4 separate regions of the Homo sapiens genome follow, and regions 2, 3 and 4 are each linked to region 1. The links come from fine-mapping of genetic effects on gene expression. A gene starts in region 1. Each other region holds a variant in brackets. All regions are shown on one strand. Distances are between the middles of the regions. Region 1 holds the start of SGCG (sarcoglycan gamma). Region 2 overlaps SACS (sacsin molecular chaperone). Region 3 overlaps SGCG (sarcoglycan gamma). Region 4 holds the start of LOC124903134 (a long non-coding RNA gene).

The links.
Region 2: its variant is fine-mapped to the expression of SGCG in esophagus mucosa (GTEx, PIP 0.97).
Region 3: its variant is fine-mapped to the expression of SGCG in subcutaneous fat (TwinsUK, PIP 0.95).
Region 4: its variant is fine-mapped to the expression of SGCG in lung (GTEx, PIP 0.98).

The regions. Positions count from the first base shown.
Region 1 is chr13:23,178,046-23,183,045 of GRCh38, reverse strand. SGCG (sarcoglycan gamma) reads right to left here and starts at 2,067. Exons shown (of 8, transcript NM_000231.3): 1 at 1,971-2,067.
Region 2 is chr13:23,347,337-23,355,847 of GRCh38, reverse strand. SACS (sacsin molecular chaperone) reads left to right here. Exons shown (of 10, transcript NM_014363.6): 8 at 1-1,329; 9 at 1,972-2,063. Among named protein-coding and RNA genes, the nearest start is that of SACS-AS1, 67 kb to the left of the region's middle. The variant A/G (reference allele first, on the strand shown) is at 4,147.
Region 3 is chr13:23,298,900-23,303,899 of GRCh38, reverse strand. The region is part of intron 6 of SGCG (sarcoglycan gamma); the gene reads right to left. Among named protein-coding and RNA genes, the nearest start is that of SACS-AS1, 120 kb to the left of the region's middle. The variant T/C (reference allele first, on the strand shown) is at 3,068.
Region 4 is chr13:23,155,656-23,163,544 of GRCh38, reverse strand. LOC124903134 (a long non-coding RNA gene) reads left to right here and starts at 3,869. Exons shown (of 2, transcript XR_007063719.1): 1 at 3,869-4,379. It also overlaps a transcript of SGCG not described here. The variant G/C (reference allele first, on the strand shown) is at 2,690.

The DNA of each region.
Region 1 (5,000 bases):
TTAGACTTTCCAGAGATGTTTCTCAAGTAAAATTAATTGAGCATTTTAAAAACAGAGTTAAAGAAGTCACGAAGGTGAAGCTAGGTTTTAAGGTACTCTTCACTGCCGCCTCCACTGCCCTTAATCCATTCTCCATGTCAACTGCAGTGATCCTTCCAAAGCACCCATGTGACTGGGCTGCTCTCCTTTTCTAGAGGTTCAAAGGTCTCACTGGTGCTTAGGATGAAGCACAAACGCCTTTGGGCACAGCAAGCCCTCCTGTCCCCATTCCTCAGTGGTCCTACCCACCAGTCATACTGAAGTCGAGCAGGCAGTGAGATTTTCACAGGTTCTGAGAAAAGTCTTGAGACCTTTACCATTCACAAATTACTAAATACTCCTGTACCAGTGTTCCCATAAAACTATCTACAGCATAACATATAAAATTAAAAATGAAGCTGGAATCCAAAATGGCCAAAGTAGCAAGTGATGGATCCTGCAATCCTCATGAGAACGTCGTAGAACTATCTGGCCCTGCAGTAGGTCTGGAGAAGAATAAAGCCAGACAGGTGCTATAGAGGCTGAGAGAAGGGGAGGGAGGGAGGGAGAGACAGGAAGGTGTCATGAAGGTCAAGGTGGGTTCTGAAGGAGCAGGAGAGTAGCAGAGTCATCCTCAGGACGCTGTAGTTTCTCCCCTCCCACTGGGAAACCACAGCCCTGGTGCCTCAAGCTGAGAAGACACAAGCGCTGTGATGAGCCACAGATTAGGGAGTGGAGGGAGATCCTCAGGCCCTATAAGTTATGCAAAACTGAACACATTGGGAACCCACTATAATTTACAACTATCATTTAATTTTTAATGCAATTTAATAACAACTTAGTTTAATGACTAGCAAGTACATTTTTTAAAGGACAATATGGAACAATTTCATTTTCCGCATTTTAACTGCAAGCTTAGCTGATATCTTTTGGACACCTGAATTTGTTAGTCTTTGGAATGCTATATCTAACTACATTGAAATGCTACTTTTCATTTGTCTTTGAAAGACAATCTGAAATGAATCCTAGAACCTATAAAACGAACCCCAACTTGTAGCATTACTTTTTAAATTCCACAAAGGTGCCTTTTTGTACCTACAAAATGTTTGCAAGAAAATAAGCAAAAAACAAACGGTGTATTCCGTAGTTCGTTTTTGTACTGGTCTGCTGGCAAATCTTTCAGTCAGCTGAGTTATATTTTTCCGTATTATTTTTTTCTAATCCTTCCTTTAAAAAAATTGTGTTTGCTAGTTGTCATGTATTAATTTAGAAAACGCAAAGAAAGAACTCATAACTTCAGTAAGCTGAAGCATTAGCACATGTGTACTTTTACCCCACTTATGTTTATTTTTTCATACATATTTTGAGCAGTATTTTATATTTTCCAGATTTAGGGAAAGAAACATTCTTCCCTTTTCACTCCAAAAATAGTGAAGGAGTCAGGTTGCTATTTTGCTCTTGTTTTGTTTATTTCCAACTTATAAAACCACTGGACTTTTGTTGTCATTCATTTTAGTTTATTTCTTAGTGTCTATAACAAAACTATCAAGAAAATCTAAAGCAAATGTAATTCTACCACTAAAGTTTAAGAGCAGAATTAGAAGTAGGTGATCTTAAAGATAATACTTTGTTTAAATTAACTACAGGATCCAATTCAATGCCCAATAATACAGAAATGCTACCTTTGGCATTCTACAAATTAAAAATGTTAGAAATATAGGATTATGCTAAAAATATGTAGCATATTTGTAGTCAGAATAACTTAGTTGAAATGAGAATTTCATTGATACTTGATATGTCATTATGTTGTGATACACCAATTTATTCAACATTATTTTAAATTTATTATTATGCCACCAAAGAAGAAAGAATATTAAGAAACCTCTTAAGCGTTTGGTTTTTAGGTAGTACTTTGTACTGATATAAAATCTAAGTTAAAACTGAGCACTTACCTTAGATATTAAGAAAAGCACACTGGCGAATGAACTACAGCTGGCCCGAGCTCTACCACAGACAGAATGTTTCAAACTTTTCTATGACTTACAGAATGAGAGCAAAGGATGAAGCTTCAGCAACTGTCCCTGGAGAAAGGGCTCTCACGAGTTTCGCCCTGTCTCATGTTTCATCCCCTCACATTAGCAACAGACGTGTCTAATTTTACTCAGTGACATAAACAGTTCATACCACACTTAAAATTTTTTGGGCACCAATTCCAGGACACAGCTCTTCGCATGCCAAAAACAAACCAAAACAAACAAACAAACAAGAAACCAAACTCTTCTTCTTACAAAACCAACTTTCCAACATTTAAACCCTAAAGCATGATAGTTTAATGTAATTATAACTTTCTTAAAAAAACTTTACCTCAAACAAACAGCAGAAAACTTCTAAGACTGGTTTCCATTAGAAACTAATGTTGATAAAATTTTACGAAAAATCTCTTCAAATTAACATGCAAGTTAGAACTTGTGACTATTACCTATATACTAGTCTCATCCAAATGAACGGCATATTACCATGTAACAGTGACTCTTTAAAAATCACTTTCCCTAAGCCTCTTTAAGTGAAAAACTTTTAACATCTGAGGAGAAAATCTTAAACAAAGATCACCATAATAGAAGGTAAACAAACTCTGCATGTTAAAATTATGACAGTTCTTTTCTAGTAAACTAACATTTCTATTGTGTTTAACAAATTATGTGAATGTAACAAATGTGACCTTAAATTGTCTTTATGTTTATTTAAGAGTAATTAGGTCATTCCATTTTATAAGGTGTAAAGACAACAGAATAAATATCGAACTTCTGAATAATTTTAATATTTTATTTTGCATTATTTTTATGTGACCTGGTTTGCAGCAGGATTAAAACTTACTAAATTATATACTTCATATTTGCATTTTAGTACTAAACCTTGAATATAAGAAGCAGTGCCTTAGTATACATGCACACAGAGATGGGAACAATCAGATACTGGGGCCTGCTTGAGGAAGGAGGGAGGGAGAAAGGTGGGGTTCGGAAAACTGTCTATCGGGTACTGGGCTTACTACCTGGGCGATGAAATTATTTGTACATCAAATCCTGGTGATATGCAATTTATCTGTGTAACAAACCTGCACATGTACCCCTCGAACCTGAAATAAAAAATGAAGAAAAAAAGGAGCAATGCAATAACAATGCATATGCTTCATTCTCATTTTATTTTCTTCTCAGGAGACTTTTCTCTTCATTCTGCTTATTTATACTCTACCATAATTTCTTTTGAAATTTGATACTTCTATCATACCAGCAGCTGCAGGCCTTAAATTACAAGCTGATACAGCTTCAAATAATCTTACATTTGTAAGACATTTTAAAACCTTTCATGAATTCTCTGCACATTAGTACTTCTACTTTGGGAATTCAGCTAGACATAAAATTATAGGACAACTATCAATTTTAAACAAAAATAATATATTAAACAATAATGATATGAAATGTATTTTTGTATGAGTGTATGTCTGAAAAGTCAAAGTCTGAAACTGCTAACTCAATATTCTGATTGAAATGTCATGCATGTAAAGGTTACAATTGAGATACCTCTTCATCAATCGTAAATTGGTTTTGTTGCAATGAACTTTTCAGTGTTTTGGGAACTGCTTTGTAAAAATGTTAGTCAGGTGATGTGTTTGATCCCCACTCATATTTACAGATTCATTTAATACTATCCACACCTATGTTTAGTAGGGCAGAAGAATCACATAAAGAAGCCTTTGATTTTATCAGTTAGTTGAAATTATTAAAGCAAGACCTTCAGTTTGTAATGTAGGCAGCTTAAGTTTGTAACTCACACACACACATTTTGAAATGTTCTCAAAGGAATCATAATACTTTAAAGCTCCAAGAGACCTTAAAGAAATCTAGTCTAACAGTCATTTAGGTGTAAAATAATTTGTTCCAGATTACAAAGCTAGTAAGCCTATGGGTAGAAGTGACTTTGAAAGTCCTTAGGCCTAATTTGGTGCTTGGGTGCTCCACTGTAAACGTGCTCCAACCATGGTCCTACGAACCTATGGGGACCTTTCTGGCTTCCCCCTCATTCTCCCTCTGCTTCCATTTTTGACTACTGCAGTCATCAGTTAGCGCTGACCTTTCTTCCTGACACCATCTCATCAAGCTCTTCCTTCAGTTTGGGCATTGATAACCCTGTTTCTGGCTTAAGTGGTTGGGTTCGGGGGATCACTTTCAGAACCAGTGAAAACAAGGAATTTCAGTAGTGATGTCGTCAGTTTTGGAGAAATCATTTCTATTTTGAGATGAAGTAAGAGGTGAGGTTATCTGTAGAGAGAGAATGTGGAAATAGGGGAATGAGAAAGTTCAACATTTGAAAATAACGGAGTATTTTAATGATTTGGGTTGTCAATTGACTAGTGAAACATATTAGGCCATGTCCAAGGCCCAAATGAAGTTATAAATATATGGATAGTAGTCTCATTTTAATAGTTCTCATGACGTTATAAGCTAACTGCAGTCATGGATTACTGTGACTAAATCCCTCAAAACTGCTCAGCCTTTCCTCCAATACAACACGCATTGTCTCCCCACAATTCCTCCAATACAACACCCACTGCTCTTTTGTCCATCTTTCCTTCCTCGGTTGACGATGCCATCCCCCAGAATGTCACAGAAGACAGACTTAGGGCTCTCCCTCACTCACCAGTCTACCAGTCACTAACTTCAGTGGATTCCCTCTGCAGAACCTCCTGCTCTGCTTGCCTTCCCTCCTTGCTCCTGCCTGACTTGGAGATTCACCTTCTCTGGCATCACCTATTGCTATAGCCAAGTACCTACTTCCTCTGCTTCCGGGAACTGCCAGCCCCCATCCTACACACCTAGGGACTGCCAGAGGAATGATGAGAACAGGTAATTCTGTCCATATCACTCCTTGGCCTAAAGCCCTTCATCAAGCCTCCAGGTGCAGGACCAAGTTCTTGACCTGACACA
Region 2 (8,511 bases), 170 kb before region 1:
AAGCACCAAGGAAACATTTATAAACGGCAATTTTCCAGGAACATTTTTCCGTTTCCCTCTTCGCCTACAACCTTCACAACTTAGTAGTAACCTCTACAATAAGCAGAAGGTTCTTGAGTTGTTTGAGTCTTTTAGGGCAGATGCAGACACAGTGCTGCTCTTTCTGAAAAGTGTGCAGGATGTTTCCTTATATGTCCGAGAGGCTGACGGAACAGAGAAACTGGTGTTTAGAGTGACTTCGAGTGAGAGTAAGGCACTGAAACATGAGCGGCCGAATTCTATAAAGATTCTGGGAACTGCTATAAGTAACTATTGTAAAAAGACTCCAAGCAATAACATCACCTGTGTAACATATCACGTAAATATTGTTTTAGAAGAGGAGAGTACTAAGGATGCACAGAAAACATCTTGGTTGGTGTGTAACAGTGTGGGTGGGCGAGGGATCAGTAGTAAGCTTGACTCTTTAGCTGATGAACTGAAATTTGTCCCAATCATTGGAATAGCCATGCCTTTATCAAGCAGAGATGATGAAGCAAAAGGAGCAACGTCTGATTTCTCAGGAAAAGCATTTTGTTTCCTTCCTTTACCACCTGGTGAGGAAAGCAGCACAGGCCTCCCAGTTCACATCAGTGGGTTCTTTGGCCTTACTGATAACCGCAGGAGCATAAAATGGAGAGAGCTGGACCAGTGGAGAGACCCGGCAGCCTTATGGAATGAGTTTCTTGTCATGAATGTTGTCCCCAAAGCTTATGCTACTCTGATCTTAGATTCAATAAAACGTCTGGAGATGGAAAAGAGCTCTGATTTCCCCTTGTCAGTTGATGTTATCTATAAGCTTTGGCCGGAGGCGAGCAAAGTCAAGGTGCACTGGCAACCGGTGTTAGAGCCTCTATTCAGCGAGCTGTTGCAGAATGCAGTGATTTATTCAATTAGCTGTGACTGGGTCAGGTTGGAGCAGGTGTACTTCTCAGAACTTGATGAAAATTTAGAATACACAAAAACTGTGCTCAACTACCTCCAGAGCTCAGGGAAGCAGATTGCCAAGGTACCAGGGAATGTGGATGCTGCTGTTCAGCTCACAGCTGCCTCTGGCACAACACCTGTGAGGAAGGTGACGCCCGCGTGGGTGCGGCAGGTGCTGCGGAAGTGTGCACACCTGGGCTGTGCTGAAGAAAAGCTTCACCTTCTAGAATTTGTGCTTTCTGACCAAGCCTACAGTGAGCTGCTTGGGCTGGAGCTGCTCCCTTTACAAAATGGCAATTTTGTCCCCTTCTCCTCATCTGTATCAGACCAAGATGTCATTTATATTACCTCAGCAGAATATCCAAGGTAGGGGTCCCCCTTCTAACATTCCTGTTCACTCTTAGGGTTCCCCTGCTCCTGCTCACTGTGAGAGTCCTTTGTTGTGAAATTCAATGGTTTTCTATGTCGATTTTATAGTTAGGAAGACTTTTGCAGAAATACATTGTTAAAATACCAAAGGATACATTTTATATTCTAAAATGAAAAAGTATTCAAATGTTTATCAGTTGAAAAGTTATCTAAGCAGCTGTTTTTCTTGGAAATTTCAATAGCAGAACACTGAAAACAATGTTTATAAAGTGCAAATAATAACAAGGCCAGATTAGTCACTAATGAATTATTTTGATAATATTTAAATTCATGAAAAATAGTATATTAAGTAATTCTTTATAAACGAGAGTGTACTGACATTTCAGGAAATAAAATTAATTTTACTGTAAGATGTTGAGAATATTTCTGAATTTGAGTAAAGTACATGATGCCTTCACGTTTTAAAGCAAAGTCTAGATAATATTTGATCAAAAATATTGTAATTTGATTTGATGTGTGCATTATAATTTATGTAAAATAAAATAGTCGGCTTAACTGACTTGAAAATATGTGATTGTTTTTTTAAAATCTTGGAATTGTGGGAAGATTATGATGATTGCTGTTCCTTTCCCTTTTCAGGTCCCTTTTCCCAAGTCTTGAAGGAAGATTTATTTTGGATAACTTGAAACCTCACCTTGTGGCTGCTTTAAAGGAAGCTGCCCAAACCCGAGGTATTATAGTTTAGTATTCTTTTAAATAAACTTCTATATAAAAATACAAGTTTTTTAAAAGTTTTCTGTTATTCATTTTAGACCTATAAATCAACAATTTCTTATGGCTCAAGCTAATAAACTTTTTGTGTTTTAAGATATTTCAGTTGCCAGAATGGCATCTAAGAGATGCTGTCTAAAAGAATCCAGAGGTGATAAGTGTAAAAATCTCTCCTGTCATGGTGTGATGGTGTAGTCAACATCTTATACCTGCATGGTGCTTTACAGTTTTCCAGTGCTTTCCCATTTCTTTTTTCATTTGAGCCTCCCAGCATAACTTGTAGCTTGTTTGGTAATGACAGTGATTATTAAATTTCACAGAAGAGGAGAGAGAAAGGTTAAGATCAAGACCACCAGCCAAGTGCCGAGAGGTCAGGTCTTCCACTTGCCCTGTCCTTGCTCTATTTCTGACACCACTGCCCCTCCATGGTTTTATGTAGTTATGATGCTGGGTTTGCATTAGGCTTGATCAGCTTCTGGGAAGTGTGGACAAATCCAATTAACTCTGTAACAGGGGCAGGAAAAGGGTCTTGCGGGGGTCTTAAAGTGATGGGTGTCTGATAGGTGTCCTTTTAGGAAAAGACAGTAATTTTGGGAAAACAGTCAACATGGTTCTAATTTTAATACTACCTTTCAACTTCTGCAAGCATCCTTTTCCTTGTGAAACTGTTACCTGAGCTTTTTCTAAGTGAGATGTTGTCCTGAAAAGTTCTGGGTTTGTCCTGCTGTTCACATTGTCAAGCATACTCTGTGATGTGTCTTTTATGGAATGTACTTTTTTCTTGTCCAGGATAATGGCTTAGGGAAAGTTGCTAATCATTGTACACCTTTATTCATTAAAATATAAGTGAAATGAGTTGGAATGGGAGAGGCAAGTTAGGTTGGAGTTAAAGTGAGAGTAAAAGAAAATGAGTAGGCAAATGTTGTTTCCCATCAGGGATTTGCATCTATGAGTTGGTAGCTGTGAGACTGACTTTTCAAACGTCTGAGTTACTCATTTAATTGTAATTGTCATCTTCAAAACAACCTTTTTGAAAGTCTAAGCCTGGATTCCTATAAGCCTGCCAATCTTTGCTCTAACGATTTGGAACTCCTTTTTTTTTAATGTTGTATTATATTTTTGTTAAAATTTTGTGTTGAAATATAAGATGCATATAGAACAGTGCACATATCATAAATGTAGGCTTAGTGAAATTTTACCATCTGAACATACCCATGTAAACCTAGATCAGAACGCAGAAGATTACCAGAAGATTACACAGAAGATTACCAGCCCCAAAAGCCCCTCTCTTGCCTTTTTCAGTCTGACCATTCCAGGGTAGCCATGACACTGGCTTTAACAGCATAGATTCACTTTGCTAGTTAATCATGCTTTGTATAGAAGGAGCCATGTGGCATATATTCTGCGTCTGGCTTTTATTTGCTGTGATGCTGGTGAGATTCATCCAGATTGTTGCATGGAGCTGTTAACAGTTCTTTCTGATTGTTACGGTATTTTACTGTGTGGTTTATTACTTTCTTTTAAAGAAAATATTTTTGTTGGTGGCAGATCCTTTCTAAGGTGGATGTGGATTTGGAAATCGGCCAAAAGTTATTCAGGGCCAAATCAGGTGAGAAGGGTAGAAGGTCAGCAGAGCATTCTGTTTTTGCTCAGCATTTTCCAAATATCTTGTGGCACAGAGTGTGGCTACAACTTGCTTCTCTAGCCCTGGGTGGATGGGGCAAACCTGTTATATTTTTAGGGATGAGTTAAATGTATAAATTAATATAGAAAACTTGACATCTTTCAAAGTTGCATTTTCCCACTTTTATATGTCTTCATTTTCTCTACTATGGATTCAAGTTGTTATTTTGGTGTCATAATGAAACACTGTGTTTTGTCTCTGGTCTTGGTTAGTTTTCTTGGCATTGTGACACTAGATGTTCATCTAGTGTTTCTGTTAATCACACATCATGTGTGGGTTAGCACTCCCAGAAATTGTCTTGATGGTCACTTTTCTTTATCTAGATTTAAGAGTTAGGCTACTATTTTCATGATTATTTA[A/G]TAACCCTCATAACTAGCTGTATTAGTCTGTTTTCATGCTGCTGATAAAAACATACTTGAGACTGGGTAATTTGTAAATAAAAAGAAGTTTAATGGACTCACAGTTCCACATGGCTGGGGAGACCTTAGAATCATGGCAGAAGGCTAAAGCCACATCTTACTTGGCGGCAGGCAAAAAGAGAAGGAAAGCCAAGAGAAGGGGGTTTTCCCTTATAAAACTATCAGCTCTTGAGACTTAGTCAGTACCATGAGAACAGTATTCGCTACCACGAGAACACCACCCCTATGATTCAATTATCTCCCACCGGGTCCTTCCCACAACACATGGGAATTATGGGAGTTACAAGTCAAGATGAGATTTGGGTGGGGACACAGCCAAACCATATCACTAGCCTTTAAACTTTTTTAAACCAGTCATATGGGTATCTTCCCACTTATTTTTATCTGTGTGTTCCAGACAAAAATTAGTTTTTGATATAACTTTATTGCCATTAATGGTTTTAATGTTTTGAGAGCATGATGATATAGGGCCTTACGGGGAACCAGTAAGTGACACCTTGCTTTCCTTTCCTGAGTTGTGAGTCAGTGAAGACATAGTGAAGACATAGCAGAGGGATTGAGCAGATGGATGTCAGAAGCCACCTCTGTCACTGATTATTGTGATATTGGAGATTATAGCTGTGGCAGGCATTGGATTTCTATTGACTCCCAGAGTGAAATGGATTAGCTCACCAGTCTAGTCACAGGTAGCCCTGGAAAGCCACAGACTTCCTTCCAGAGGTCCTGCCCCTACTAAACATCTGTCCCTTTGAGTCCTGCTGAGCATGTGCAGATGCTTTTTCTCAACTTACCAATCATGTAAGTCATCTTGCTTTCTGGTGGTATGGGGCCTATTGGGGGAATTAGTGAGTACAGGAGAAGAAAGGCGGAGTATTATGTTTATGGAGCCCCCTTCATATATGGTAGGGAGCATCACAGACATGTAACTACATTTGATATTTTTTGCTCTACATAATGATTACTCCATTGCTTTGCTGACACAGAGCACTATGGAATTCTGTTTATGAGTGATCAGTAAACACTGATTGGCCAGTCTTGGAAGTACTACTGCATAAAATGGAAACATCATATGTTTTTTCTGATATGGAAACTTTTCCTCTAATTCTGTAGCTCAAACAAAATTTGTCACATTATTTAATAATTGTACCTTTTCCTTGTATTACATTTAAAATCCTTAGCTAAATATTGAGCTACTGCTTGTATTTTTAGTGTTTACTTCTACTGCCCCTTTTATTAGCAGTTAAATATGTTTCACTATATTTCATTTCAGGAAAAACAAAACAGACCTCCACCTTGATTTTCTTTCTTGTATTCTATCATAGTCCAGCTTCCGGAAAGAGTTGTCTTATTGTCTGTACTTCCTCCTTATTTATTATCACTCCAAACAGACTTTTGCTTCCACTGTCATTCCACTAAAATAGTCTGGCTGACGTCACTAGTTAATGATTTTTCTGTTACTCAGCTCAGTGGATTTTTCTGTTTCTTTTACCTGATCTCCCAGAAGCTTGGTATTCCTCTTTGAAGCCCTCAGCCATGATGATACCATTCCTTCTTGGCATTCACTGATTTTGCCTGCTTCTCAGAATTATTTGTGAACCTCTGTTCCTCACTTCACTCCCTAAATACGTGTTAGTGTGGGGGCTCCTTCCTCAGCTCTTTTACTTTGTTCCTTTCCTTGAATACATTCATCCACTCCCATGAAAGTGTTAGTGACCACCATATCTTCAGTCACCACCCTAGTCTTCAGAGAGGTAGTGTAGCAGAGATTAAAAACCTGGATTTTGTAGTTACCCAGATCTGGGCTTAAACTTCACTCCTCTATTGTGTGACTTTGAACAAATTTTCTACCCTCTCTGAGCCCCTGTTTCCTCATCAGTAACATGGTAATACAGTACTATCCTTCTAAGGGTATATCTCAAGGTCCCCAGGATTTGATTACAGAAAATTCAGGATTGCTTCACTGCAAGGATAATGAAATAAGGATTGAGCAGAGGATGGGAGCAACCACACCTTGCCAGTTGAGTTGTATCCAAGTTTGTGTTATTGCAGCAGATCAGGTTATTGAAAGCTTCATTGTAATATTTTACTCACAGCAGGCATTATGCTGAAGATCGAATGATGAATACGTAATACATATAGTTTAACATAATATCCGGCACTTAATATAATACTGACAAATGGTAGCTATTGTTAGCATTTTGCACTTGGAATCCCATAAGTATTTCAAAATCAATATTGCAAAACTTTAGTCTTCATCCTCTCCCCAAATCTGTTTCTCATTTTGAGTGATCCCACTGAAAATAACACTACTGTCCACAAGATTGCTCAAGAATGAATCCTTAAATTTTCTTCTTTGTTCCCCACAGTCTCCAGGATCTGTTGACTAAATTTTCTGTGCCAGTCCCTTGGTCTTACTCCACTGCCTATTACAGGTCCTCTAATTTCTCGTAATGTTGTTACTGGACTCTTGCAGTTGATGTCCCTGTCTACAGCGCTTGGGCTTCATCTGATCATGTCACCCTCCTGCTGCAGGTTTTCCAGTGGACATTGAATCTATCAGGATAAATCTAGCCCTGCTAGCATGAACTAGGGGACTTTCCATGATTGTAAACTTCCATGATTTTGGAGTGCTGTCTCACTGGCCTTGGTGCATGCAAGCGCCCTCTTCTGTTCTAATTGCCCTCTTCTGTTCTAATTATACAAGCACTTGTAGGTTGATGAACTTGAATCCTCCCTATATTTCATGAGAGCAGAGAGACCTGTCAGATTTGTTACCACCATCTAGCACAGTGCCTACTTCAGTGTAGGTGCTCAGTATTTTTTTTCCTGCATGAAAATTTTCTCATAGCTGCCCTTTTGTACATGGTGTTCCTTTTGCTTAGAATACTTTCTTTCCATCCTCTACTTTGCCCAGCTAATGTTTATTCATCATTCAGTACTGAGCTCATGTGTCACCTCCAGGAAGCTTTCTTTGACATCTTGCCCTGTGCCTCACCCCTGCCCTGCAGTCTGAGGTGAATGCCTCTCTTTTGCTCTTGGAACCCAGTACATAGTCCATATGATCCTCTTTGCTTTATTAGAATCATGTTTTTACTGTGCTACACTGCAACATCCTTGAGAGCAAGGGCAATCTTTATTTTTATATTTCCAAGGTCTGGCCGAGAGCCTGCTTGCCAAGTTTGACTGGATAAGTTGATGCTTCAGCTGCTGGGCTGGGTGGGGACCGCATGGAGGAGATGGGGCGCAGAGGCCAAAAGGCAAATCTCTTTCTTAGTGTCTGTGAGTTAATAGTTCTCTTCAAATCAGTGTCTTCTGTAATCTTGTTTATTCTTTACAACCATGAGATAATAGAGCCTGTATCTCCATTTGAGAGATTGAGACATTGAAGCTCAAAGAAATTGAGGGATTTAAATGACTTGCTTGAGTTGCAGAGTTGAAGCTATGATTTTTGTTTTTTTAATTTCCAGGTCTGAATTATTTCTGTATTAAGTTGCTTAAGTAAATGGATGGATATCAGAAATTGGAGAATAGTTAGAAGAGCAGGTAAATGGATTTTGGATGAAGAAAAAGGAAACAAGAACAGTTTAGTGGTACAGATGCTTGGTGTCGGGTCTTATTTATAATTTTTAAAATTTTCATACTTATTTATTAGATGAGACCAAAATCCGTAACCTTTCCTATGAGGCACTTCATTAGCTGGCTCCATTTTCTGGGTGTTATGAAGATGCCTGGTACATGGAAGGTTCTATTGATATTTGCTATTTTTAATCTCCTTCCCTTAGTTCCATGCTTTTTCCTGTTTGGAGGACAGCATGTTCTGTCCCTCCCTCAGGTGTGATACATGTGGCTTCCTTGCCAACTCCTCCATTCACTACCTCTGCTCATCTTTCATGCAACCCATGTGTGCTTCCATGCTCTGTTCTCCATGGCACTCACACACTGGTACCTGTTTAAGTATTTGTAATAATTTATCTGATACTTGCCTTCTCCATTAGACTGTAGGGCCAGGTCTGGGACCATGTCTAGTTGTCCATTTCTATATCTCTAGCACTCAATCAGTATTGCCTAACTAACAAGGTGCCTGTTGCTAAAGTGATTAGAATGATGTTAAGATGAGAAGAATTGAGTTTCTTTGGTTACACCTTTGCTCTCTATCTTAGCTACTAGTTTAGTTAGCCTAAGGGACCCAAATACACAGAAATCTCACAGAACTGTAGCAGTCCAGTTGATTAAAAGTTTCTTGCTTCATTCAAGCAGAGGAGGGATAGATGTTCGTGGAACAATTCTTAGAAGTTTGTAATTATT
Region 3 (5,000 bases), 120 kb before region 1:
AGGAAAATAGAATTTATTGTAACAATGCTAGTGTGCAAATTGGTATACCTCAATGGAGGGGAAAGTCACCGAAAGGGGAATTTGGCATTATCTGAGTAAACAATATGTGCATTTATCTTTTTCACCCATGGATTCCTCTTCCAGGAATTTATCATGGAGCTATATCTCCAACAATATGAAAATTTACCTGCACAAGCACATTGTAAATAAATCAGGTGCCCATATATAGGGGAGCAGTTGAAAAACCTCTGATACGTGCATACCTGGGAACTTGTATGTGATTTCCGGAGCTCTTTCCTGGCATATGCCCTCTTCTCTGATCCTGTGCCCCACAGACTCCATTAGCCTCAACTCCCCACTCTCGGATCTCTTTCTCCTCCACTCCCAGAGGTTCCCGTGCACTGACTGGATTCCCCTTCCCTGTGCCCTGATTCTGAACATGCCTGTGGGCAGAGAGCTCGGGCAAGTGTAGGGCTCACCTCATTAGTTTCTGTCTTGTTTTGCACTTCGTGCTATCCAGTGTCTGAAAGTGGTTGTTTCATATATTTGTCAAGTGTTCTCCTGGTTACCAGAGATGGTGCATCCAGTCCCAGTTACTTCATCAGGGGCAGAAGAGGACTGTTGCCCTGAACTGCCAGGCTGGGAGCTTGCAGGGGTTCCCCTTCCCAGATCCTTTTTAACAATCTCCTTCTCCCACTTTATAAAGAAAGACATGCTCATTGATTCTGAATCGATTATGATGTATTACACTGGGGTAGAAATACTTCCAGGGGTAATGTGCAAGGGAAAATTAAAAAATTGGTGACAGAATTGACAAATTGAATGACTACAGTGATTACGAGGTAATCATTTGGCAAGTTACACAGTTTCTAATTCTTTACTTTCAACAAAAATTGAAGAAAGACCTAATGAATTGTCGCCGATAGTCATTACAAATAACTTTTAATGGTGTATATTTAGGGAAGAGTTCAGAACGTAGAGTGACTTTTTAAAAAATAAAACTTTTTGATTCATACCTACTTACTTATGTGAACAGGCTCCTTGGGACATCTACTTAAAAAACAGGAAAGATATTGATGCCTGATCTTGACTCCTTCTATTAATAAGCTATATTTATTAGCAGATCTATCAAATAGTTTTTAAAAAGTTCCAACCATTCACTAAAAGATGTAGTTTTATACAATTTTACTTTTTGTTACTATCAAAAATCTTAATATATTGATTTTTTCTTTTAAAAATTATTTTTAATTGATATGTAATAAATGAACATATTTATGGAGTACAGAGTGATATTTTGATACATATACACAATATGTAATAATCAAATCAGAGTAATTGGCATATTTATCACTTCAAGCATTTATGATTTCTTTATGTTGGGAACATCTGAAATTCTCTCCTTTAGTTATTTGAAAATATACAATAATGGGAGGAGGAGAGGATAGGGAGGGGCTGGCTAATAGATACAAAATTACAACTTACATAGGAAGAATAAGTTCTAGTGTGCTATAGCACTGTAGGGTGACTACAGCTATACTGTTTTGATCAATTGTTTTCTCCTTAAATTATGACTCTATCCAAAAGAAATTTTAAAAATTCTATAGTCACTAGAAGTAATTATATATATAATTATATAAATATATTTCTTGTGGAGAAATAGGATAGAGTGATCAATGAAATACTGTCAATCACTAAGTAGTGTATATTGGGAAAAAATTTTGGGTAAGTGAACTGTAAGTATTAGGTCAAGGACAAAAAGAAAACTTTTCTGACTCCATAAGAAGAGCTTGTTTGTATGTTTTTCAGTTCTTTGATGGTGGGCATCAAATATCCATGCTTCTTAGATTCCATCCGTACGTTTTAAAAAGTAATGAAAATAATTTTATTTCAAAATGATTTATGTTATTTAAACCATAAAAGGTCATCATTGCTAAACTGACTTGGTAAATATTTCCTTTTATCATCAAGTAGTGTTCCCATTGATTTTTTTTCTTTTCTTTTTTTTTTTGAGATGGAGTCTTGCTCTGTTGCCCAGGCTGGAGTGCAGTGGTGTGATTTCAGCTCACTGCAACCTCTGCCTCCCGGGTTCAAGCGAATTCTTCTACCTCAGCCTCCCAAGTAGCTGGGATTACAAGTGTGCACCACTATGTATGCCTGGCTAATTTTTCTATTTTTAGTAGAGACAGGGTTTCTCCATGTTGGCCAGGCTGGTCTCAAACTCCCGACCTCAGGTAATCCACCCGCCTCGGCCTTCCAAAGTGCTGGGATTACAGGCGTGAGCCACCGCGCCGGACCCCATTGATTCTTATTAATGCTATTTCTTTCCTAATTTTGATTCTGTCTGCTATTAATATCGCGATGCCTACTTTCTTTTGGTTAGCATTTCCCTGAACTTTAGGCTGCTCCAAGCCCCATCTTCACCATTCCCTGGCCCAGCCCTGGGATCAGCCACTTCTCTAAGAAGTCCCGGTTCCTTGGAGAATGGTATGAGAAACAAAGTTCTGGGGGCCAGTGATTTTATTTTAATTACTTCATGTCTCATTTCTATAATTTCTATTTTGTTATTTCCCAAATCTGCCATTTTTCAAAATATCTTGTCTTTGTCTTACATTTCTATTCATTTTTTCCCTCATTTCTATTCATTTTTTTCCTCATTTGAGCATTTTATTTATACTTGTTCTAAAAATCTCTTTGCTTTGCTCTATGACATAACAGTTCCAGGAGATTATTTGTAGCAGCTGCTAATTCTAATTCTTCTCCATGGTAGTTCAATTCCTTTTTTTTGAGATGGAGTCTCGCTCTGTCGCCCAGGCTGGAGTGCAGTGGCGTGGTCTCGGCTCACTGCAAGCTCTGCCTCCTGGGTTCACGCCATTCTCCTGCCTCAGCCTCCTGAGTAGCTGGAACTACAGGTGCCTGCCACCACACCCGGCTAATTCTTTTGTATTTTTCGTAGAGATGGGGTTTCACCGTGTTAGCCAGGATGGTCTTGATCTCCTGACCTCATGATCTGCCCGCCTCGGCCTCCCAAAGTGCTGGGATTACAGGCGTGAGCCACCGCGCCCGGCCC[T/C]TTTTTTTTTTTTTTTTTTTTTTAGTAAACTAGTCATTAGCAGGTATTGTTTTCCTTAAGTGTCTTTATGTCATGTGTGATGGGATAACTTCTTCAATGTCGTTTCTCTCTGTTTTTAAATGGTTCTATGAGTTTCACAGACTTTGGTGCAGTTTTTACTGTTAATTTGCCACCTCGGAGTTCCTATACCGTGAAGTAGTATGCGTTTGCTTCTACCTCGGCCAGGCAACGGCTTGCAGGTCATGATTTCTTGTGGGTAATTTTTCAACCCATGGCCTAAAATAGCAATCTTTCTTGTGACATCGTTGGGCTGATGGGCATATTGTGTGAAATACCTGATTCATGGGAGGTCAGGATTTCGGAGGTTTCTCAGCCAGGGTGTTTCATGCACACTGAACAATCACTTGGAATCTCACTCCCACATCAGCATTAATGTCTCAGCAGCTAGTCTCTATGTATCCTGATTTCTCTATGAGTAGCTTAGCTTAACTCTTCCTCTACTCTGACCATGAGCTGCCTCTTTATTGTTGGGACCTGGGAATTACCCTTTCTTGGTTTCTAACTGAGCTTAGTATTTATAAACACTTACTAGGTAAACTTTCGTATTTGCAAGTGCTTGCAACAGGTGCAAATGTTTCCATCCACACAGTAGTATATGTGTATCTTCCTTAGATAAGTAGATGAACAGACGTGGAAATAATAACTTACTTAATTGACATCACATCCTTATGGTGTTACACAGAATTCAACTCCTCCCTTTTCTGGGGTATCATCCCAGATTACCCTGGGAAGATTTTATATTTATTTGCCTATGCCTCCAATAGAAGTTGTACTTTTATCATAGCAGTTAAATATACTTTTCTAACTTGTTTGCAAGTTTCTTTTCTCAATAGACTGTAAACTCATTGAGGTCAACGACCATGCCTTTTATATCTGGCACATAAACACTTTAATACACTTTTGCTGACTTTTTAAAAAAGAATGAATTACATCATGTGTGAATGCAAGGTTGCTTTAAGGTAGTTTGTCAGCGTTCATACTTTCCTTGCAAATGATTTTGCCATAAGAAATGTAAATCTAAGGCCGGGCACGGTGGCTAACGCCTGTAATCCCAGCACTTTGGGAGGCCGAGGCGGGCAGATCACGAGGTCAGGAGGTCAAGACCATCCTGGCTAACACAGTGAAACCCCATCTCTGCTAAAAATACAAAAAATTAGCCAGGCATGGTGGCAGGCACCTGTCATCTCAGCTACTCAGGAGGCTGAGGCAGGAGAATGGTGTGAACCTGGGAGGTGGAGCTTGCAGTGAGCCGAGATCGCGCCACTGCACCCCAGCCTGGGGACAGAGTGAGACTCCGACTAAAAAAAAAAAAAAAATATATATATATATATATATATATATATATATATATATATATATATATATGCCAACTAAGATATTCCAGAATCTTTTTACTGTAATCAGGCCAGGAATAGTAATGCTGCTGGAACCAGAAATAAAAAGTGGAACATAGTTGATGGCAAGAAGTTGCAGAAGAAGAAGATATGACCATCATATAATCAGTCAGAGGCATCTCAGTGTAAATCAAAGAATCAATCTCTCAAGGATCCGCTGGGTGGTGGAGACAGCAAACTGGATGTACATGGGCTCTGGAGTCAAAGCTGGATTCGATTATGAGTGGCTACCTTTTTAGTTTTGTGACTTACAACATGGAACTATCTAGATCTGAGTTTCTGCCTTTATAAAATGGGGATAAAATTGCCAATCACTTCATAATTAAATGAAACAAATTCTGTGACAGCACTGAGCACAGTTCCTGGCAGTCAAAAGCATTCAGTGAATGTTAGTTCCCACCTCCCATCCTCACCACACTCCTCGAGCATTTCCTTGCAGTTTTGTTATTTTTTTCAATTGCCTTGGTTTTAACACTCAA
Region 4 (7,889 bases), 21 kb after region 1:
TCCATGCTGGGATTTAATTTAGGTGATCCCACTCAGGGGTCCAGAACTGGGTCCCCTCTTCAAACCAAGTCTGAATTAGGTATTAACCTAATTGAAATTGAGTCCAAATTAGGTATTAGGTCCAGACATTTTTCTAGACAGCAGATCTGTAACTATTACCAGATTCTCAAAGGGCCCCAGGACCTTAAATTACCTTGGAAAGTATCATTTTACCCTTTTCTTACTTTACCTGCTGTTTCCTATTCCGGCATAAATATTTCCCTCATATGTAACAAAATGAAATGTCAAAATGCATGTTGCTAAGGTAGTTAATTTTATTTCCTAATTTTGAAGATGTCATGTTTAGAAATGTATATGCTAGTTTACTTTAACCAGGGATCCCTGTATAGAAAACATTGTATTGTTACCACTGTCAACACACAACCAATTTTTTTACTTCACATTTAACTACAGAAAACCTACGAAAATTGGCATTCAAAAAATACAAGGTACCATCACTTAAGTATGAATTATTGTACCACTATTATCATGTCCATATAAATCATTTTCCTACAATTTTAGAATAAGAAATAAAATTATCTTTATCTTTTTTAGTTAACTATAACCATGTCCCTAGACATTTATGTATTTTACCCACAGTACAATAAGGTCTCTTGTAGGACACAGTCTTATTTTTTAAATTATTTATTTATTTATTATTTATTTATTTATTTTTGAGACGGAGTCTTACTCTATCGCCCAGGCTGGAGTGCATTGGTGCGACCTCAGCTCACTGCAACTTCGCCACCCAGGTTCAAGTGATTCTCCTGCCTCAGCCTCCCGAGAAGCTGGGACTACAGGCGTGTGCCACCACACCCAGATAATTTTTGTATTTTTAGCAGAGATCGGGTTTCACCATGATGCCCAGGCTCGTTTTTAAGAGACGGAGTCGTGCTCTGTTGCCCAGGCTGGAGTGCAGGGGCCTGATCTCGGCTCACTGCAAGCTCCGCCTCCCGGGTTCACGCCATTCTTCTGCCTCAGCCTCCGGAGTAGCTGGGACTACAGGCGCCTGCCACCACGCCCGGCTAATTTTTAAAAAAATATTTTTAGTAGACACGGGGTTTCACCGTGTTAGCCAGGAGCCAGGATGGTCTCCATCTCCTGACCTCGTGATCCGCCCACCTCGGCCTCCCAAAGGTCTGGGATTACAGGCGTGAGCCACCGCGCCCGCCCAGGATACAGTCTTAAGCAGTAAACATCAAGTGAGAGTCTGACAAATAATAAAAAACCATTCCTAAGATAACATAATGATGCTGATTAAAATGTAATAGTGTGTGTATATATGTGTATACATATTTAAATAAAAATGATCTTAAATATTACCAACCCACAATTTATAAAATGTTACTTTTAAAATGGAGTATTATTATCCTGGTTATCTCTGAGAGGTGTTTTAGTAGTTTTAAAATGTAAATAAATTATTTGTACAACGTGAAAGTTTATTGATTTTATAGTCTGTTATGTAGACTAGCTAGGCTATGTAGCTCTGATCATTTGAATTTATTAAATGAGCTATTTATCACTACCTTTTTTCTGAGATTTAAGAAAGATTGACAGAGTACAGTCGTGGCACATGTGAGGCCACGGTGTTAAGTGTATCATACACGTTAATTATTTACGTGTAACATCCACTAAATATTGTGTCTGTCTGATTCAGCAAAAACATTAAAGATGAAAAGAACAGAGGACTTAAGTACAATATTTGAAGATATAACTGCTGTATAACTTTAAAAGTTTACTGTAAGATATTTTAACACATGTGGATGGATGCCTGCTTGCTAGTCAATTTGGAAGCATATTGTCATGAAAGGAAGTTTTAATACCAGAGACACTGAACCTGTTAGCAAAAGATTACGTCAACAAAAACGAAGATTTTAGCTTATGTGTACTTTTGGAATAGAATTGTGCAATCTCTTCTTTACAGCTTCTTTACAGTCTGTTCATATCAAAGGAAGAAAAGCATGGGAAGACCCATATTACATTGAAAAATGTAAATACGATTCCATTGCTTTATTAGCACCAATTTACCTGTGTTAAGGAACAGCCAGGAGTATTAGTACATGAATAGTACGGATATACATGGAGCGCCAGCATTACAAAATCCGCCTGTACAATATTATCACTGGATGAGTAGATGTTTCACAGATCAACTGGCTGGTGCCGTGCTAACATTCAGAAACATCAGAATACTCGGTAATGATGTAAGAACAAGCAACTTGCTAACGCTGATGTAACCAAGTGACAGCATGCAAATATGTAAATATTAATTAGTGGTACTTAATGGAGGTAATGAGTATAAGGGTGGTGAGGATCATCAAGTTATTATGTAATCCCATTGAAGACGACAGAGCCCCGCTGCTGCGCTTCAGTTCCCCTCTAAAACCCCCAAGTAACCCCTACGCAACTTTGCACTTGGTGCAGACACTCCGCTTACTCAGTGTTACAGACTCCCCAGCAAGCAACCCAGGGCAAAGTTTTTGGCAAAATCATTTGCAGAGAACCAATTCACTCTGATTCTCTCACACCACACACACGCACACAGGAAGTTATTAAGTCTCATTGCAGAATGAGGATCAGTTAGTGAAGTCTTTGGGCAAAGAAAAGCCAACTGTCTAAATTACATTTTACTCTTGTCCCTGAGCCCCCACAA[G/C]GGGGCAGGGGAAGGAAAGTGCTGTCTGGGGCAGAGAAGGCGAGGAGAAAGAGGGCACGGGTGGTGATGGAGTCCTAGGAGGAAGGCTGGAACCGGCATAGGGACGTCTAACAACAGAGGGGTTAGTTTAGGAGGTTGGAGGAGAAGGAAGGGACCCAGGAATTGGGGGAACTGAAGGCGAAGTGGCGGGCCGTGGCTATTCTCTTTACCTGCTGTACTTCTTGGAGTCCCGGGGCGCAAACAGCCGCTGCATTTCCCTTCATTCCCGACGGGATGACACCACAGTCTTCTCCCCAGACAGCGCGGGCCTCTGCTCCGTCCTTCCTCAGCGACCGCAGCGACGACTCTGCTCCAGGGCGGGGGAGCAGCTTCCCAAGCCGCGGGCGCCCACTTCCCCGCCCGGACTCCGGGCGGTGCTGGCCGGGGCGCGCGGGGAGGCGGGGACCAGGGACCCCCCAGGAACTAGCCTGGGCTGCTGCACCGCTGCCAGGGCCGTCCTGCGCCTAGCCGAGCCCAGGGCGCCGCCGGCTGGACGCCCGTCAACTCCCACTGCGCCCGGCCCCCGAGCGCGCCCGGCTGGATCCGGCGCGCCCCTCCGCCCCAGGCGCCGCCAAGTCCCAGCACTATGCGCCCCTCCAGATGTCCGAAAGCGCCTCTCCAGGGCAGCCTATGTCCCTCTGTGTCCTTCCCGCGACGGGCCGGGCCCACCACTCCACACCTCCCGGGTCCTTCCATGTCCATCACCGTGTGCCTCTCCAGCATCCCCCCTCCCCTCCAAGTTCCAACATAGCACTCCTTCACATATTCCCCGCGTCGCTTCAGAGGTTCCTCCAGCCACTGCCCCGCCCCTCCACTTTTCCAGTTTCTCCAGTTCTATCGAGGCGCGCCCCTCCAGCACGTCCCCACCCCTCCACTCCCTCCCCGCGTCCCTGCACTCCCTCCCCGCACCCCTGCACTCCCACTCCGAGCCCCTCTGTGACCAAACACCGCGCCTTTCCAAGCGCTCCTCCTTCGCGCCGCCCCAAGATTCCCCTCCATACCCTGCACTCCTTCCGCACCCACCCACGCACCCCTGCGCGCCTCCACCCGGCGGCCTCTCCACCCTCAGACTCGCCCCCGCGATCCAGCGCGCGGGGCACTGGGCAGGGACATTTCTCGCTCCCACGCGAGTCCTTCGCTGCAGACGCTGGGTGCCTTCTTTCCAACCCAACTACTCCTGCTGAACGCATCTTGGGCTTGGAGCGCGGGACCACAATCTTTACACTTCTGGCCCTCGTCCTTTACTGTCAGAAAGGGTCAGCACCTGAGGAGATTTAGATAGTCCCTCTGGAGGGAGTGGTTCCATTTGCGAGCCTTTAAAAGTCTTGCCACCCAGCCTGTCCCCCGCAAACCCCTTGGGTTTATCACAGTTTACTCACTCTCGCGCAATGCTAGTTCTCCATCCGCCGCTAGGAGGCACCCCGAAGGGTTTGCTGTGGTGAAAACAATGCTGCATGCAGTTTATGCTGCACTTTAGTTAGCTCTTGGAGGCGAGCTGGGAAATAGTGACTGCTGATCCATGGACAAAGAAGCCGCTTTTTACTATGTTCTATTTTCAAGGCCTGAAGAAGTTCTCTGTAGCACATAGTAGTCTGGAGTTGGTTCCTGCCGGTGGGTTCGTGGTCTCAGGAATAAAGCCGGGACCTTCGCGGTGAGTGTCACAGCGCTTTTAGATGGCACGGACCAAAGAGTTGGCGGTACCAAGGTTTATTGTGAAGACCAAAACAACAAACGTTTCACACTGTGAAAGGAGACTCCAGCCAGCATGGGGGGCAACTTTTATTCCCTTATTGTCTCTCCCTCCCCTGCCCCGCCCCCATGTTGCTTTTCTGTCCTACCAGAGTGCCCTTTTTTCAATCCTCCCCATGATTGGCTACTTTTAGAATCCTACTGATTGATGCGTTTTACAGAGCGCCAATTGGTGTGTTTTACAGAGCGCTGCTTGGTGTGTTTTACAGAGGGCTGATTGGTGTGTTTTACAATCCTCTTGTAAGAGAGGAAAGTTCCTCAAGTCCCCACTTCACCCAGGAAGTCCAGCTGGGCTCACCTCTCAATACAGTTTTCTAATTAGTGCTTGTGTATTTAACTCACTTATTTATTCGTTGACATTCTCCGTACACATGCATCACGGGGGAGCATCTTGGTTTTACCAGCTTTGTGTGAATGGTATGGGTATCTGAAGATGTTTGGTGAGTGTGCTAAGGAGGTAAACTTTCAAATATATTCCCGAAAGGATCATGCTGGTGTATTTTATGATTTTTTACAGTAAAAATCTGGTACCATATTTGGGACCAAGTAGAAACATAAAGATGTTGGACCGTTTTAAAATGTTTTTAATGTAACAGAATGGATAACTGCAAGGCAGAAATGTTTACAACTTCTAGATTACACTTTTTAAAAGCAAACTTTTGCAAAGGTAGAAATTGAAACGAGAAAAGCCAATTTTCCAGAAGTGTCCAGTGCAATACTTCTCTAATTACTTCTCTCTCTTATAGTTGATAGACAGTGATAATCATTTTCTAAAAATATCCCCCTCAAGGAGCAAAGGATAAACAAGATGGATATAGAGATATATTATTAAGGGTATATTAATAATTTCCTACATATTTCACAGGCAGCAAATGACAGATATTGTGAATTATTACTCTAAAAATGTCCGTACTAATCAGTAAAGGCTGCAGTTTAATATTTCTGCCAAAGAATTCAAAAGTTATTAATGTGTTTTAATTGCCAAAACTAATCTGATCTCAGAGCCAGAACTTCTCCTTTGTTGGCTTAGAAATAAATTATTAGCAACAGTTTGTGCTGGTGATGACGATCGCAGTGGGGATCTAGAGAACTTATGAGTCCCGTGATAAAAAGCTAAATATATCCGAAGTGGTGTATGAAAACAACCAGGGGTGTGGGCAAGGGATACCATCTCCAGACTGGACCGAACATCTTACCAGTAATAAGAATTTTGAGCAACTCAATACATGTATGTTTATTTATAAGTTATATGCGTTTATGAATTTATTGTATATTTTCTGTGAATGCCAATATATTGTTTATATTGTAAAACAGAAAGATAAATTTTAAAAGGATATATGAAAGTACATATAAATAAGAAAAGCAAGGAGGCTGAGGCAGGAGAATCGCTTGAACCCGGGAGGTGGAAGTTGCAGTGAGGCGAGATGGTGCAACTGCACTTCAGCCTGCGCAATGGAGGGAGACTCCATCTCAGGGGAAAAAAAAAAAATCAAAGAAAAGCACTGGAATGGTGACATGCAGATCTCTCTGTAGATCCTCTCCCCGATGAAACAACTCTACCTGATCGAACTATTTTTATTTTATTTTGAAATTTATTTTTAGCTGTAATGAACTTTATTTTTTAAAATTCTGATGATGTAATTGTTTTTTTTTTTTTTTTTTTTTGAGACGGAGTCTCACTCTGTCGCCCAGGCTGGAGTGCAGTGGCGCGATCTTGGCTCACTGCAAGCTCTGCCTCCTGGGTTCACGCCATTCTCCTGCCGCAGCCTCTGATGATGTAATTTTTAAATTTCAATAGTTATGTGGATGAATTGTAGAGTGGTGAAGTCAGAGGTTTTAGTGCACCCATCACCGAGCCGTATACATTGTACACAATATGTAGTTTTTTATCCCTTGCCCATTTTCTGGCTTCTGAGTCTCCAATGTCCATTCTACCACTCTGCATGCCTTTGTGCACCCATAGCTTAGCTCCCACTTATGAGTGAGAATATACGGTATTTGCTTTTTCATTCCTGAGTGATTTCACTTAAAATAATGGCCTCCAGCTCCATCCAAGTTGCTGCAAAAGACATTTTATTCTTTTTTGTGGATGAGTAGTATTCCATGGCATATATGTACCACATTTTCTTTATCCACTCATCAGTTGATGGGTACTTATGTTAGTTCCATATCTTTGCAATTGTGAATTGTGCTGCAATAAGCATATGCGTGCAAGTGTCTCTTTGATATGGTGACTTCTTTTCCTTTGGAGTAGATACCTAGTAATGGGATTGCTGGATTGAATGGTAGATCTACTTTTAGTTCTTTGAGAAATCACCATACTGTTTTCCAAAGAGGTTACAATAATTTACATTCCCACCAGCAGTGTATAAGCGTTCCCTTTTCACTACATCCACACCAACATCTGTTGCTTTTTGAGTTTTAATAATACCTACGCTGGCTGTGGTAAGGTGGTATTTCATTGTGGTTGTAATTTGCAATTCCCTGATGATTAGTGATGTTGAGCATTTTTTCGTGTTTTTGGCCATTTGTACATTTTTCTTTTGAGAAATGTCTATTCATGTCATTTTCCCACTTTTACATGGGTTTTTTTTTTTTTTTTTTTAGACGGCATTCTCGCTCTTTCGCCCAGGCTGGAGTGCAGTGGCGCTATTTCGGCTCACTGCAAGCTCCGCCTCCCGGGTTCACGCCATTCTCCAGCCTCAGCCTCACGAGTAGCTGGGACTACAGGCGCCCGCCACCGCCCCCAGCTAATTTTTTGTATTTTTAGTAGAGACGGGGTTTCACCGTGTTAGCCGGGATGATCTCGATCTCCTGACCTCGTGATCTGCCTGCCTCGGCCTCCCAAAGTGCTGGGATTACAGGCGTGAGCCACCGCACCTGGCCTTTTTTTTCCTTTTTGATTAGTTTCAGTTCCTCATAGATTCTGGACTAATATCCTTTGTCAGTTGCATAATTTGCAAATATTTTCTCCCACTTTGTGGGTTGTGTGTTTACTCTGATGATTATTTCTTTTGTGGTGCAGAACCTTTTTACTTTAATTAGGCCCATGTATTTATTTTTGGTTTTGCTGCATTTGCTTTTAGGGTATTAGTCATAAATTCTTTCCCTAGAGCCATGTCCAGAAGAGTTTTTTCCTGAGTTTTCTTCTAGAATTGTAATGGTTTCAGGTCTTAGATTTAAGTCTTTGATCCACCTTGAGTTGATTTTTGTAGTTGGTGAAAGAGATCCAGTTTCATTCTTCCACATGTGGCTATCCAGTTTTCCCAACACCATTTATTGAATATGGTATGCCGTCCCCAATTTATGTTTTTGTATGCTTTGTTGAATAATAGTTTGTTATAAATATTTGGTTTTATTCTGTGATTTCTGTTTTCTTTTTTTGATGGAGCCTCATTCAGTCCAGGCTGGA